2 linked regions of the Homo sapiens genome follow. The protein of the gene in region 2 purifies or fractionates together with the protein of the main gene of each other region. This does not show direct contact. Each region holds a gene or a part of one and is shown on either strand. Other genes may lie near its edges. The genes, in order: NPHP4 and EML4.

Region 1 (3,816 bases), on a different chromosome or scaffold from region 2:
GTTCCAGCGCCACGGGGATCTGTGCGGTCGGACGTGCAACTGCCAGCAGCTTGTGGTTCTCAGCAGTGCCACTGTCTCCACCAGCATCGGCTGCTTGGCCGACAGGGCCAGGGGACACCAATAGCTGCCAGGCACCGCTACTGGTGGAGTTAGTCTGGGAGAGCAAAGAGGGTGAGGACCACACCTCGATGTCTCTCAGAAAAAGCAAAGGCCGTCCAGTCCTGAGAGTTGCCACCATGAGATGCAGCTGCCAGGGAGATGTGGAGACGCCCCATACAGCAGCATAGGGGTTGCAAGCAGCAGCCCCACTAAAAGCCCGCACTGGGAGTCAGAACATCAGGGACAGGCTGCACAGACAGGGTAGGAGGGGACAGCCCCGCCGCCGCCAGCAGGCCCTCCCCAGCCACGCAGAAGCACGCAGGGATCCACTGTGCTTAAGGGGGGACAGAGGGTTTTCTTGCAAGTAATTGACTCTGGAATTCTGAAGGAGGCCGTGGGGGGCCTGGACTTACCCCTGGTCCCACAGGTGAGTTCTGCGGGGCAGCGAGAACTCGAGGTACTGGCGCTGGCGGGCCTGGGAGGAAGCACAGTGGGGTAGGAGAGGGAATGTGTCAGCCTGTGTTGGGGGCAGTGGGCCCCTGAACCCCCACGCAGTCAGGTCTCCACAGGCCTCACCACCTTGTCTGTAACAGGGGCAGCCGCTGGTTACCGTTCAGGGGCAACAGCAGCAAGGGTGCCACCCAAAAGTGTCGCTGTCTATCTAGAGCCCTGGCATGCACCAGCAGCCAGGAGAGGGGGTACAGCTGGCCTCGTCCTCACTGTTCTTCCTGGGCCAGCAGGTCTCACAGCTTGGGGTGCTTGGAGCTCCCTAACACGCTTCTCCTCACTAGTCATCTTTGCATCTTCCCTGCCCGGAAGAGCTGGGGTCTGAGGTTGCCCCAGTCTTGCAGCTCCCTGACTCCGGCTGTTTTGTTAACCGAGAAGCTCCTGAGCAGACACTGCCAACCTGGCTTGCGGCCTCACGAACACCCACTAAGCACAAGCTGTCCGCCAGGTCCTGCTGAGGATTCTCCATGCAGGCCCGGTAACACTGGGAGGCGCACCTGGGGGAGGCAAGGCCAGCCCTTCATGGGGTCCCCCTGGAGCCAGGGACTGAGAACTGCCTTGGCCCTTTATAAGGCCACAGCTGCCTCCCAAGCATCCAGGGGCTGCCTAAAGAGCCAGCAGCCTCCTCCCAGGGCCACCTGTACCTGCCCAGCCCCGCCTCAGCCCAGCTGGCATTTGTGCTGCTTCTGCAACCCCTCCCCAGGCCACATGGACACCTCATGGCCCAGCAGACCCAGGGCTCTCAGCCCCTGCACCTCAGCAGGAGGAAGCCCCAGCATCGCTGGAGTCTCTGAAACCCACCAGGCTCCTGCCACAGCGGTGCTGGAGCGTCCATAGCCACTCGTCTCTTACGGTCATTTCACATACACTGCCATTTGCCTTTGCCCACCATGAAACCACCAAGCCAGACCCCAAGCCCATCCTGACGGGGCCACCTCTGCCCACTCAGAGGCCAGGGTGGGAGCCCTGCACACTGAGTCATCTGCCTGGCTTCCCTGAGGCCCACAGCCCAGTCTCCAGCCCATGTCCTGTCCCCACCTGGCTCATGACAGCCTCCTTCACGGTGACAGGACTCTCCACTGCAGCAGACACTACCACTCCCCATCGGACTTCCAGGATAACCCAGACCTCCGGAGAAATCAGGCTTCCCCCATGGCCCTGTCCCACCTCCCGTCACCCCCATGTGGCCCACATCTTGGGCCCAGCAGCTCGCCTTCCCTCCCTCTCCTGTGGCCTCTGCTGCCATGAAGGTTGGGCAAACGAATCTCCTATATGTCCTGGTATCCTGAATTCCTATGGCACAGAGCACAGGCCGGCACTTACGGGACCTACGGACCAAGCACACAGCACAGAGGCCTGTGACGTCAAACGCTGGGCACTCTGGATAGAGACTGCTCAGCCACTTCGTGTTCCGCTCTGAATCCCAAAAAAACAAAAACAACAAGGAAAATGCTGTCGACCAAGGAGAAACCAAATCCAGAAAGTGCCGCCCTAACACCAGAGCTGCACGACCATCGGAGCCAATCCCCGCCGTGCCTCTCCCAGCAGCTTCCAGAACCCATCCAAGGAGGTGCTTCCCCAGCTGCAGGATCTGGTGGAAACCCTGCTAAGGGCCTGTGGATGGGTGGAAGGCATTGGGGCAAGGCCAGAGGGAGCCCCCAACCCTCAGAGGATCCAACTGCCCAGCCTGGCGGGCACAGCTCCCAGTCCAACTACCTCCTGGGCAGCGCCCATTTGGCCCGCGCAGCTCCTCTGTAACCAGCCACAGTAACGTGGCTCCAAGGAGCACAAAGACTCTGGTCAGAGGAACCTGCCCTTCTATAAATGAGCTCACGTGCTCGGAGGGAGTTAGCAAATGATCTAGCAAGCTCTGCTTCCCCAGGAAAATATCATCTCACTAAAAGCAAAATGCAGATGAGGATTCTGCAGGGGCCCAGCTGTCCTCAAAGCCGATGCCTCTCCCCAGATTCCCTGAGTGCCTCTTACAGTCCATTTCAGAGCTCCGTACGGCAAACCCCTGCCCACCTCCTCCCAGAAAAAGCCTGAAAGATGACACAGCAGAGTGGTAAGTGAAGCTCCACGCCGTTCCTCCGTAAATGGGAACTCGGAAAACTCCGCAGGCTGATTTTGATAATGAGGACAAATTGCCAGAAATGGCTCCATTATCTTCAGCAGAGACAGCGGGCACTCGGGGGCCAGCCCTCCGTGCCTGTGTGCGTCCTCTTGGGGAGGAAAAGCTGGATGAAAAGTTAAACCTTCCAAGCACATCTGAACTTCTCGCATGCATTTTATTTCCCCATCGTCTCAAATTTGCATACAGTGTGGAAAGTTTTTTCAAGTAACTCTTTATATCATGACTTATGCAATTTTTTCTTCCAAGAGAGTAAACCTACCTACAAGGCCATTTAAAAAGGCCATTAAAGGTGGCCATTTAAAAAGATACCTGGTGGGAAGCCCAGACCCCCAGGGCCCAAAACTCAGATCCAACCGGTGAAGCAGAGCAGGAAGAGACACACCAAGGCCACGAAATAACTCAGTTTCGAATCTCTTTGTTTTAATGTTCGATGTGGTTATGGGTTAAGGTGCTTCCCAAACTATACTCATAGTCCTGCCCAGAGGACAGCGCGGCCGCCAGGGAGCACCCGCTGTACTCCAGGCCCCAGGAGTCTTCCAAAAACCACGGTGGAGTCTGGGAAGCCTGACTTCCGCCACATAACAGGACTTGGCTGACAAGCACCTGGGCCAGCAACTGAACCGGGAGCAGCATGCGTGTGCACAGGACACAGGTAGGAGCAGCTGCGGTGAGCAGACAGACGAGCACAAGGCTGTCTGGGGCAGCGCTGCGACAACAGCAAAACATTAGACACAATCCTGGTGCTCCTGCAAATGGAAGCTACCTCAGCAGAACCCGGCAGATCCTGCGTGGGGCAGGGGAGCAATGGGATGGGAGGAGACCAGCCGGTGTGTGCAGAACTGGGAAGGCAGCCGCGGCAAGTTAAAAAGTGACGATAGGCCGGGCACGGTGGCTCACGCCTGTAATCCCAGCACTTTGGGAGGCCGAGGCGGGTGGATCACAAGGTCAGGAGATCGAGACCATCCTGGCTAACACGGTGAAACCCCATCTCTACTAAAAATACAAAAAATTAGCCGGGTATGGTGGTGGGCACCTGTAGTCCCAGCTACTCAGGAGGCTGAGGCAGGAGAATGGCG
Region 2 (3,664 bases):
GGCTGTGAATATTCAGTCACCAGGGACGAGTAAGGCAATAATGAAAACCCCATCATTTCTATGATTGTAAACCTGGGGAATGTTTGGAATACTATCAATCAACCTATTCTTTATAAAGAAACATTTGTAGTAGCCAATTTGTGATTGTGGTATACAGAAGATCTGCGTTAAAAAGCAACATGGGAGAGATGGGAGAAAGCAGAGAATGCCATGGCCTACTGAGTTCAAGTACTTCACAAAGGCTAACACTGCGAGGCAGCCTAGTCGGATGGGTAACGAAGATTATCAGGATTATCCAATATTAAACATTAGAGAAAGTGCTGACATGAAATAAGTGAAAACAAAGCTATCCACATATTCAGGGGGAGCATAAATCAGAAGTAATTTCCTCTAACATTATGAGATGGGAGTTTGTTACTACCAGAATGATTTTATCCACAGCAGCAGCAGTAGCCCACTGATAAATGTTGTCTTCTGAATTGTCATGCCTTCTGATAACTGGATAGTCATGGAAACTCTCAGTATAAATGAAGAAAGAGTTAAGACGCACTTAGAAAGAGGAAACATTTTGATTATTTTATTTTTTAATCTTCAAAATTTTCTGCCATGAGACAGGAATGCATGATAGCAATGGCTCAACATCTTCACATGAAACACTTGGATTCATTTTCATTCACAAGTTTTTCTAAAAACATCTACAATTTCATAACCCCACCCACTTCCAACCATTATCACAGATTTAACTGACCATTAAACAGTAGTTGCCAGCATTAAATAGCTGGAACGCTTCCTGCGTATTAGTAGTGTCTTTTGAAACTACCACCGAAGAGTATCATGATTATAAATCTCATTGTACATGGCAACCCCAAAGGTGACTGATGTCCTCAAATAAACTCCCTGCTGATCACTGAGAGCTGTATTCCCCAGGTACTTAAAGAAATGCTCTTTCTTCTCCAAGAACTGCCTGTTCATGTCAGTATATTTCTTGCAGGGAGTATAGCACATGCTGATCTGATGATGTAATAATCATTGCTAACAGACAGATATATATGCCTGATACTTACTGGCGCGCTCCGATAAGTATGTACAGAACATACATACTGAAGAAAGATGGGTTGCTTGGAATCTCTCTTCTTTTGAAGAGAACTATTTTGAGGTTTTTTAACAGTTGTAAACAAAAGGAAAGATATACAGATACCTATACACATAGAGATCTACACTGAGTATTTTCAACGTGGTGCATATCTTCTTATCTAGAGATACACACAGTGTCTCCACTCGCCCCTTCACACACACCCACACCCTTCCATACAGCGTGTGAATATAAATGTTGTAAATGTCCTTGGGAGTTCACTGGAGTTTTCATATTACCAAATGATGATGAAATACCTGATTTGTATTACTCCTGAGAAGATATTAGAAGGGAATGACAGTTCTGATGCACTTTGGAATGGCACAATCACGTAAACGCCTGCATACTTAAGACTTCTTAACTCATCCAAAGTTTCTAAACATGATTTGACCAAAAAAATAGAAAGTATCAAAACAATGCAGCAAGTTAAAAAATCAAAACAAAATACTTTTTTATAATCAAAGTATAAACATATAGGAAATACATATTTGTCAGTAATTACTCTTAAAGTAGGAAATGTACTGAAAACCATAGCTAGCCAACAGAACTTAAAAAAAATACCTTTCCAATGCATAATACATGCATTGCCCAAAAGAGTAGGATAGCCACATTAGACTTACAAGACTTACAGCAACTCCACCAGAAAAAAACTGCTACACAGCAAGTCTGTTAAGTATGCTGTTGGTAAAAAAAACTGCTGTGACTGTTACCCACACTTCTGTAAAAAAAAGAATTTGCAATTTGATGAGTATCTTATCCCTCATATAATCTGTATAAAATTACAACAAAACCAATAAATTTCAAGCACCAATTCAATAATCTAAACTTACTGTATTTATATTTCTCCTATTACTGAGGGAACAAATTATGATGAAGGCTTAGCTGAAATTAGCCAGGTAATTATTACAGTTTAGTTTTAAAGGCATGTGGTTTTCCTTCCATTCACTTGAATCTCAAACATTTGAGAATGTTTAGGCTAGTAAAGGACTCCTTGGAGGAATCCATCATTTCTGAGTATTGAAGGTTTTAATATACATTGAAAGCTCTTTAACAAACCAATGCTCTCTTAGTTCTAGGATAAAACAGAGTTGCACACAAGAAATTAAGGGACTGTTCCTCATTATGACTTAGAAAAGGCAGCACCTCTCTAGTAGACTAAGAGCATGTCTGGACATCCACTGGTAGTGTAAGAAAACGGCATTTTTTAAAGAAGGCAACACCATTGCACTTGGCAAAACTGAAGTTTTTCTTAATTAAAAATTTTCCATTACACATTTGGGGTGAGAGGGTATCTCAGTAAGAGTACATTTTTTTCTGGTTTCTTTTTCAGGAAAAAAAAAAAAAAAAGTAGTACAGTCTGAGCCAGTAGATGAGTAACAGTGTTTGTGATACCTCTGGTTGTTCCTGAAGAAAACATGTTCAGATAACAAGGGGGTTTGTTTTCAAAATCAATGCAACTGCTGTTTTTGTTTCCAGTATTTACATCACACCACTTAGGTACACAGTAATTTGTGAGACATCATTAATGATTCAGTCTTCTCCTAGTATTAAGTTTGGTTAATTTTCAATAAACACCAAACTAAAACTTTAAGTTGGCTGTATTTGAGAGACTGAAAATAAGACTATTGAAGAAAACAAATCACATGGAAACCAAAATCTCAATCAACAGTGATTCTCCATCACTGCCCATCCTGTTACCTGAACTTTATCACAAAATCACATGCAGCTGAAGGAAAAGAGTTGCACTGAAGCCAGGGTGTTAGGACGAGGGCGAAGGGTCTTGCTGGTCCTCCAGAAGGGTGGCTTTGGCCTGCTCCTTGCTTATCTCGTTGCATGGCTCTTCATAAAGAGGCTCACCAAGGTCTCCGCTGCCCTCTTCACTCTCCTCCTCGCTGTGGTCTTCACTTGGCTCCACAGTTTGTTCCAGGCTGTTCTCCAGAAGTGTGGGAGAACTGCTTATTCTACTTTCCTCTTCAGCTGTCTCATTTAAGGGCTGAGAAGGAGGCGGTGTGGGAGTATTAGATTGGATGACACTTTCAGTGGAAGAGACGGGGGCTTTGGTTAGAGTAGTATCCGCTACAGTCTCATTCTGAGGCAAAGATAACTTTTCCACAAGTTTCCACTGAATGATGCTCATGTCTTTTCCACCAGTTGATATCAGGTGACTGTCATTGTGAGTAAAACTGACATTGGTGACATGGCTGCTGTGGGCACTGTACTTGTGACTGGGAGCCTATATGAAATAAATCAGACAGACAGGAAAATTAAACTCATTCTTGACATGCCTGTTTCAGAAATGGAGGTGATACGTAAGGGGGGTAAACTCAGCTTGTGAAATGGGCAATCCAATTTAAAGCCAGAAGTCATCAAATCTCAGGAGTAAGGCTAGCCGTTATTTCCTTTTATTATCACTTTACATAGGAAAAACGAAACAGAAGAATTGGACATCTCTGTATTTTCACACTATATGTTTAAAAAAATAGCTAAAAGTCTGTCTCTTCTAGATGTTGGTCGTATACTTGCCAGAGCTTA

What was found.
Region 1: the proteins of EML4 (region 2) and NPHP4 purify together in Homo sapiens (co-immunoprecipitation; one large-scale study listed by IntAct). This does not show direct contact.

The regions. Positions count from the first base shown.
Region 1 is NC_000001.11:5,908,640-5,912,455, forward strand, and holds part of NPHP4 (nephrocystin-4), read right to left. Parts: intron 575-3,816; coding exon 513-574; intron 1-512. UniProt on the Homo sapiens protein: Involved in the organization of apical junctions; the function is proposed to implicate a NPHP1-4-8 module. Does not seem to be strictly required for ciliogenesis. Required for building functional cilia.
Region 2 is NC_000002.12:42,329,435-42,333,098, reverse strand, and holds the end of EML4 (echinoderm microtubule-associated protein-like 4), read right to left. Parts: intron 3,366-3,664; coding exon 2,892-3,365; 3' UTR 551-2,891; downstream 1-550. UniProt on the Homo sapiens protein: Essential for the formation and stability of microtubules (MTs). Required for the organization of the mitotic spindle and for the proper attachment of kinetochores to MTs. Promotes the recruitment of NUDC to the mitotic spindle for mitotic progression.